Homo sapiens: one gene and its partner. The protein of the gene in region 2 binds, or shares a complex with, the protein of the main gene of each other region. Each region holds a gene or a part of one and is shown on either strand. Other genes may lie near its edges. The genes, in order: SF3B2 and SF3A3.

Region 1 (3,814 bases), on a different chromosome or scaffold from region 2:
CTTAAACCCCTGGCCCCAAGGGATCCTCCCACCTCAGCCTCCCAAAGTGCTGGGATTACAGGTGTTGAGACACCACATCTGGCTGAGATAAAATTATTTCTCTCTGGTCATTCTTAATATTCAGAGACATATCTGGAAACACATTCACCAAACAGTGAATTTGGCTATTTCTGAGTGGTAAAATTGTGACTTGCTTTCATCTTTGTACTTGTCAATTCTGACTGAATATTTTATGATGAGCATGTCAGTTTCTTTAAAAAACAAAAACCATTATTTGTTTTTCTACACATACACATGGTATATGACAAATATTATGTCAATAAAATATTTTTTAAGTAAATAAAGAGACACATGGTGGAGTTAGAGAAGGAAAACAAACAAATTACCTTCCAGTTCAAAAGCAGAAATGGCCAAGAATGAACGAAAGGACAATGCTCACCTCAGGGATGGGCGAGTTCAGCCCAGGGATTTTCAGGTTGGGATACGATGGGGGTGGTCCATATCGCTGCATGGCAATCAGCCATGGGGGAGGGACCTTGTGGGCATTCTGCAGGAAAAAGAGAACAGGATACCATCTGCCAAACCCTATCCCTGTCTCTGCCTTCCACTCCAATCCCCACCAGCCTCTTCGCTGCTTCCCCAGACAGCTAACTGACACTCACTGGTCCTACTGGCATCCCCAAGGAAATCCTTAGCTCATCAGACAGATCTCCTGGCTTCTTCTCCTTCAGTCGTGTCTCGAACTCCTTCCCCTGAGGGAAAAGCAGAGCATGCTACATTGTAGACCCAGACACTCAGTGGGAGCACAATCCTAACGCACATCAGATATAAAATCCCAGTGAGGGCTACCTGGCTCCCACTCTGATTCTCATCACTTCTTTCCCTGGCCAAAGTCGGGGAAGGAATAAAAACCAGGCCAGACTCACAGTGCTGTCAATAACCCACTATGAGAACACGGCCAACGTTAGGACCTGCCTCCTCATCTGTAAAATGAGGGCACTCGACAGGAAGATATGCAAAATTCTTCCACCTCATAAATTCCATGACATCATGGTGACTACGATTTCAAGGATCAGAAAAAACCAGCAATTTCTCTACCACTCCCAATATTAAAAGTTTCCTAAAAGCATCTGCCCCTTGGCCCCTCCATCCCTAAACCACCTACCACAAACTATTATCATTTCTAAGACAGGATACGAAGAGTCTATCAGGGAAAGAAGCCACCAGATCTGCATCTCTCCTCCAAATAGAGCCTCATTTTTAAATTCCATCTCATCCGAGGGTAGTCGATGGGCAATTCTAAGGCTGAGGAACTATCGTAGTTGCTTCAAAAGCCCTCCTTGGCCAGGTGCGGTGGTTCATGCCTATAAACCCAGCACTTTGGGAGGCTGAGGCGGGTGGATCACTTGAGCTCAGGAGTTCCACACTAGCCTGGGCAACATAGCGAAACCCTGTCTCTACCAAAGATACAAAAAATTAGCCAGGTGTGGTGTGCCTGTGGTCCCAGCTACTCAGGAGGCTGAGATGGGAGGACTGCTTGAGCCCCCAAGGCAGAGGTTACAGTGAGCCGAGATCCCACCACTGCACTCCAGCCTGGATAACAGGGTGAGACTCCATCTTTTTTAAACAAACAAACAAACAAAAAAAAGCCCTAGACAGTCTCAACCCCAAGGCCCAGCCTGACCTCTCCCAGCCCCCTCCCGAACCTCATAGTACAGGTCCCCATGGATGGTCAGCTTTGGCTTGGTCTGCCACTTGAAGAAGGCATCATGCAGTTTCTGGTAGTCGATGTCAATTTTGCCCATCTTAGGCCGAACTTTCTCTCGCATTTTTGACTTCATGGTCTTCTGTTCTTCCTGTGGAGAATGGCAGCAAACAAGCCTTAACAAGTACTCACCAAATTCATGTAGAGAATCCAGCTCCCAACTCCAAATGAGATCATGGGAAGCCTCAATTATCTCACCCTGAAAGTCATCAAAATCCTTCCTGCTAAAACCTTTCAAAATTACATAATCCATACTGAACAAAACAGACTATACAATATCAGCCTCAGCCGTGTATATCAATAACTAGTTTTTAAACCATCTCATCAAGAGATGAATCTCAACAGTTCTCTGGAAAGCAGAGACTTCCCCATGTTCTTTTCTACCTCCTGAATTCAAAGCATTTAACTAAAAGCTTTAAAATTAAGAAGTTACACAACCACCACGAATCTCTAGCCACAAAGTACATCTGAGAAAGGAGTCACCAGGTGAGCTGGCAAAGTGAAGGCAGAGGGGAGGAAGAGCAGAGGAGGAAAACAAAAGGATAATTAGACAAGTAACAAGTAGGTGGTAGGTGGGTTTCAAACCAGATTCCCATTTTGAAGCACACTGCTATGAAGGATGGGGACACCCGGGGGCAGGTCTGAGCCCTGCCAGGCCCTCACCTTCTCCTGCAGGGCCTCTCGCATCTCCTGGATGCCTGTGCGTTTGATGAAGTCTGGCAGCTCGAAGGGGGGCTTCTCAATGCCCCGTTTGCCCTGCAGGTATTTGCGCTTAAAACACCAGTGGCGTGGCACAGGCACAGAGTTCCGAGTGGCCTTGAGGTGAACCAAGAGCTTAGGGTCCTGCGCTGTCACATCGTGCATCTCCACGACATCGGGCCGAGCCACCAGCTGGAAAACACATAGTAATGCGTGTTCTCGAGAGCCCCGACTTCTCAGTTCTGAAGCTCTTCTTCCTCAAAGGACCCAAACCCAAATCACCCACACCTCCTTCAAAGAACTCCTTTTCACCTCCCTGGCTCCCCAGGTGGTCTCCCAGCTGGGCTCCAGGGCCTGCAGGATCCTCTCAGGTCTTACCTGCTTGAGTTCAGCCACAGTGAAGCGGTTCATTCGGCGCAACTTCTTCTTGGACAGCTTGGGGGCTTCTGGCTTCTTTTCCTAGAACAGAACAATCAGCCCTTTTAAGCAGGACTCAGATGTGAATGAAACTGCCCAACCCACCCCAACCTTAAGCCACCAAAGCTCTGTAAGAGTTCACCATGGTCCCTCTCTGGATGCATCTCAGCCACCTGTGCCCAGAGTCCCTGCTTCCCACCAGGAGGGCTGGGCCTGACCTGCTCGTCATCACTGCTGTCATCATCACTGTCCTTGTGCTCCTCTTCAAATCCCTTCTTCTTGGGGGCTGCAGAGTTCTCCAGTTTGTCAAGTTTCTCTGGCTCCTTCTCTTTCTCCTTCTTCACATCATCAGTGAGCTAAGGAGGCAGACAAGGTGAAACCCCTGCCCTCTGAGCCCCTTCCCAGTTCCTAAGGCCAGCACTAAAAGATGCCTGTTCACCGCTGCCTCTCACCCACCTCTGAGCCCCTTCCCTGTTTGGCACTGCCCCTTCCTAGTGTGCTCTCCTTGTACCTTAAAAGCCTCAAAGATCCTCTTAAAGAAGATAAAGTTGGGCTCGTAAATTTCAGGTTCTTCAGTCACATACTCAATCTCAACATCAGCTGCTGGGGAATCAGAGCCACGGGACCGGGTTGAGTCTTTCTCCCGGTCCCCAGAGCTCTCAGAGGACACCCCTCGCACCCGCTGGGGCTTTTTCTTCTTCTTTCGGTTCCTACGCTTCCGGTTTTTCTGTCAAGAGGAGGAAAACCAGCTGGGTCAGGGAATCCAAGCACTGTGCCAGCACCCCAACCCCTAAACTCCTCCCCCATTCTCCCCCACAGTTCAACAGTCAGGCTTTTCCCAAGGAGGCCATCTCATGAAGTAGCTGCGAAGGGGCCTTGGAGTCAGACTCCAAAGTTCTGCCACTCACAAGCTGTATGCCTTTGGGTAAATTA
Region 2 (3,814 bases):
CAAGTACTTGGTGGGGCTGAGGCGGGATCCATCACTTGAGTCCAAGAGGTCTAGGCTACAGTGAGCCAAGATCGCGCCACTGCACTCCAGCCTGGGTGACAAAGTGAGACCCTGTCTCAAAAAAAAAAAAAAAAAAAAAAGATTTATTTTGGCAAAGGTAAAATATGCTTGCTGTATTGATAATGGACTGGGTACAATGGCTCATGCCTGTATCCCAACACTGTGGGAGGCCGAGACAGGAGGATCATTTGAGGTCAGGAGTTTGTGACCAGCCTGGGCAACACTGCAAGACCCCATCTTTACAAAAAAAGACAAAAATTAGCCAAGTGTGGTGGTGGTATGCACCTGTAGCCTCAAATACTCAGAAGGCTAAGGCAGGAGATCACTTGAGCCCAGAAGTCGAGGTTGCAGTGAGCAAAGATCATACCACTGCACTCCAGACTGGGCAACATGGTAAGACCTCATCTCAAAATAAAAAAAAAAGTATTAATAAATAAATATGCTTCTTGTTTTCACTGTAGAAAACTTTCATTTTGAATAGTATTTCATTCCAAGAGAGCATATCACCTCTTTAATATTTACATAAGAGTTTTAAAACACAAGGAAGACACTTTACAATGGCTTCATGTCTGCTAGTTCCAGCCTACTGTCCTGACTCACTTCGAGAATCAGAACCTCTCTGCCCTTTCCCAGGCCTTACCTCAGATGCCTTCAGGTTAATGTACTTGAGGTAACAGTCATGGAGATCGAGATAACGACCATATCCCTCTTCATCTGTGAACTCCACCAAGTCTGAGGGAATCAGATACATCAATGATTCAGTTTCTACAGACCACTCTCTTGGACTTACCTTTTCAAATGGACTGTGTGTTCCTAGTTTCCTGAGGCAGCACTTCACCCAAATGTCTTCCCTTTGCTCACAATATAACCTCCAATAAGTTAAGTGAGATCAAAAGTGAGTTTTCTCTTACAAGGTAACAAGGACTGACTCATTTTAGTATTGTGAACTAAAGTGAACAATCCTTGGCTTTCCAAGCCAGTAAATTTGAGGTAGGAGAGAACAAAATGAACATTTTGCCCAAGACCAACTTAGGATGTCACTCTAGCCCAGAAACCAGCAAAGACAAAACCAGCAAGAAATCCTGGCTATAAATATCTCTGAGGCCATGGCTGCAAATCTGAGCTGTCATTAACCTGTATTTTTGCTGGTGCTGAATGAAATTTTCACCCCTACTTACTTTGTGCCTCTTCACTTGGATTCTCTCGAGCCTTCAGGAGTTCCTCAAATTCCACTGACATTGGCACACAGATCTGAGGGGAAAAGTAAAAGCTCAGGTGGATTTTTCTTTTTGCTTTTGAGATGGATTCTCACTCTGTGGCCCAGGCTGGAGTGCACTGGCACAATCTTGGCTCACTGCAACCTCTACCTCCCGGGTTCAAGCGATTGTCCTGCCTCGGCCACCCGAGTAGCTGGGATTATAGGCACACACCACCACGCTTGGCTAATTCTTGTATTTTTAGTAGAGACAGGGTTTTGCCATGTTGCCCAGGCTGGTCTCAAACTCCTAAGCTCAAGTGATCTGCCCACCTTGGCCTCCCAAAGTGCTGGGATTACAGGCATGAGCCACTGTGCCTGACCGCAGGCGGATTTTTCAATGTAAAAGTTGCAAGATCACAGAAATGAAATACACAGAAAGTTGGACTTCTGATGATTTATTTGGCCTTGATTTTTCACTAGGAAATCTACTACTGTTCTCCAATTACCTTGTTTTTCCCCGCTTTTTTGTACTGTTTGAGTAAAACCCACTAAAGTAACACATGCTCACAAAAACTCAAAAGTCCACCTTTATTAATTCTCCTGAGAACAGGTGACCACTGTTAACAGAGCTTTTGCTATGCCAGTGGTTCCCAAACTTTGCTGCACATTAGAATCACCTGGGGGAGTTTTTTTTTTAAATCCTGATGCACCTGATACCAATTAAATCAAAGGAGGGCAGGTATCAGTACTTTTTAAAGATCCCCAGGTGGCTCAAATATGCACAAAGTTTGGAAAACAGTGCTCTATGTATTTAAATATATGTATTTGTACAAGTACATTCATGCCTGCATAGGTTTTTGTTTTTGTTTTTTTAACATAAAAGACTTGCGTCTGACATTTAGTATATCTTGGGCATCCTTCTAATCAGTTATTTAAGCATTTATTCCTCATTACCTTTTGACCATGGCTGGAATAAGGTTAACACATCAGAATGGTATTCATTTATTCTCCCTTGGTTAGCAGAAGACCTCATTCTCTATCCTCCAAGGGGGCTATGTGTGTGAGGGTCCCTTCATTTACCTCCGCGCTATGTATTGCAATAAACAGCCTCTATTTTTTGCTGTTTTTAGTCTCTTCCTTTTTCCCTGTGCTCCTTCAAATAAGTATGCTTCTCTGTCTTCCCCAATACCCTCCTGTTTCTCCCCTTCTTTTTCCTACCAGACTTTTTTTTTTTTTTTTTTTGACGGAGTCTTGCTCTGTTGCCCAGGCTGGAGTGCAGTGGCGTGATCTCAGCTCACTGCAACCTCCATGTCCTGGGTTCAAGCGATTCTCCTGTCTCAGCCTCATGAGAAGCTGGGATCACAGGCGTGCACCACCATGCCCGGCTAATTTTTGTGTTTTTAGTAGAGAGAGGTTTCACCATTTTGGCCAGGCTGGTCTCCAACTCCTGACCTCAGATGATCGACCCGCCTCGGCCTCCCAAAGTGCTGGGATTACAGGCGTGAGTCACTGCACCTGGCTACCAGCCTTTCAAATGCATGTTCCATACTCCATACTTCTACTTCCCCATTACCCATCTTTACCTTGTGACCAGATTTCCATTCATACTACTTTAATGAAGCAGCAATCCTGGCAGATATAAATCAATAACAGTTGACACCATGACTGCCTTTCTGAAACTCTCTTTTGCTTAACTTCAGTAAGGCAACACCACCTGGAGTGGTCATGTGACCTTTCTGATGGAAGCCTTCCCAGGCCCTTTTTCTCTTTACCTTATTATAAGTGAGCTCCAGGGCATATGAGGGCCGGGCGCGGTGGCTCATGCCTGTAATCCCAGCACTTTGGGAGGCCGAGGTGGGCGGATCACAAGGTCAGGAGATAGAGACTATCCTGGCTAACATGGTGAAACCCTGTCTCAACTAAAAAATACATAAAATTAGCCAGGCGTGGTGGCAGGCACCTGTAGTCCCAGCTACTCAGGAGGCTGAGGAAGGAGAATGGCATGAACTCGGGAGGTGGAGCTTGCAGTGAGCCGAGATCATGCCACTGCACTCCAGCCTGGGCAACAGAGCGAGACTCCATCTCAAAAAAAAAAAAAAAAAAAAAGACAGAGTTAGGAACACAATTTATTGGGGAGAGTAATTTCTGTGAAAGATAAAAAGGAAGAGAAAGTAGGATTAGGACAGGATAGCCTAGACCACAATGCAGATTGGACAAAATCTTGACCAACCCAACGGGGAGCCATGGAGCAAAGATTATTCATCAGAGGAGTCTCAGAGTGGACCAAATTGCTGGGCCCTAGTACCCATACTGTGCTCAGTCACTGGCTGGGAGCTGCCCACAAAATGTGGCCTTGACTTCTTTTTTTTGAGACAAAGTCTCACTCTTGTCCCCCAGGATGGAGTGCAATGGCGCAATCTCGGCTCACTGCAACCTCCACCTCCCAGGTTCAAGTGATTCTCTTGCCTCAGCCTCCTGAGTAGTTGGGATTACAGGCACATGCCACCATGCCTGGCTAATTTTTGTATTTTTAGTAGAGGTTGAGTTTCACTATGT

The links.
Region 1: SF3A3 (region 2) and SF3B2 share a complex: the UniProt entries of both Homo sapiens proteins name them as parts of the 17S U2 SnRNP complex.

The regions. Positions count from the first base shown.
Region 1 is NC_000011.10:66,058,624-66,062,437, reverse strand, and holds part of SF3B2 (splicing factor 3B subunit 2), read right to left. Parts: intron 3,609-3,814; coding exon 3,393-3,608; intron 3,238-3,392; coding exon 3,100-3,237; intron 2,924-3,099; coding exon 2,843-2,923; intron 2,657-2,842; coding exon 2,429-2,656; intron 1,857-2,428; coding exon 1,707-1,856; intron 753-1,706; coding exon 663-752; intron 548-662; coding exon 440-547; intron 1-439. UniProt on the Homo sapiens protein: Component of the 17S U2 SnRNP complex of the spliceosome, a large ribonucleoprotein complex that removes introns from transcribed pre-mRNAs.
Region 2 is NC_000001.11:37,983,469-37,987,282, forward strand, and holds part of SF3A3 (splicing factor 3A subunit 3), read right to left. Parts: intron 1,312-3,814; coding exon 1,239-1,311; intron 793-1,238; coding exon 701-792; intron 1-700. UniProt on the Homo sapiens protein: Component of the 17S U2 SnRNP complex of the spliceosome, a large ribonucleoprotein complex that removes introns from transcribed pre-mRNAs.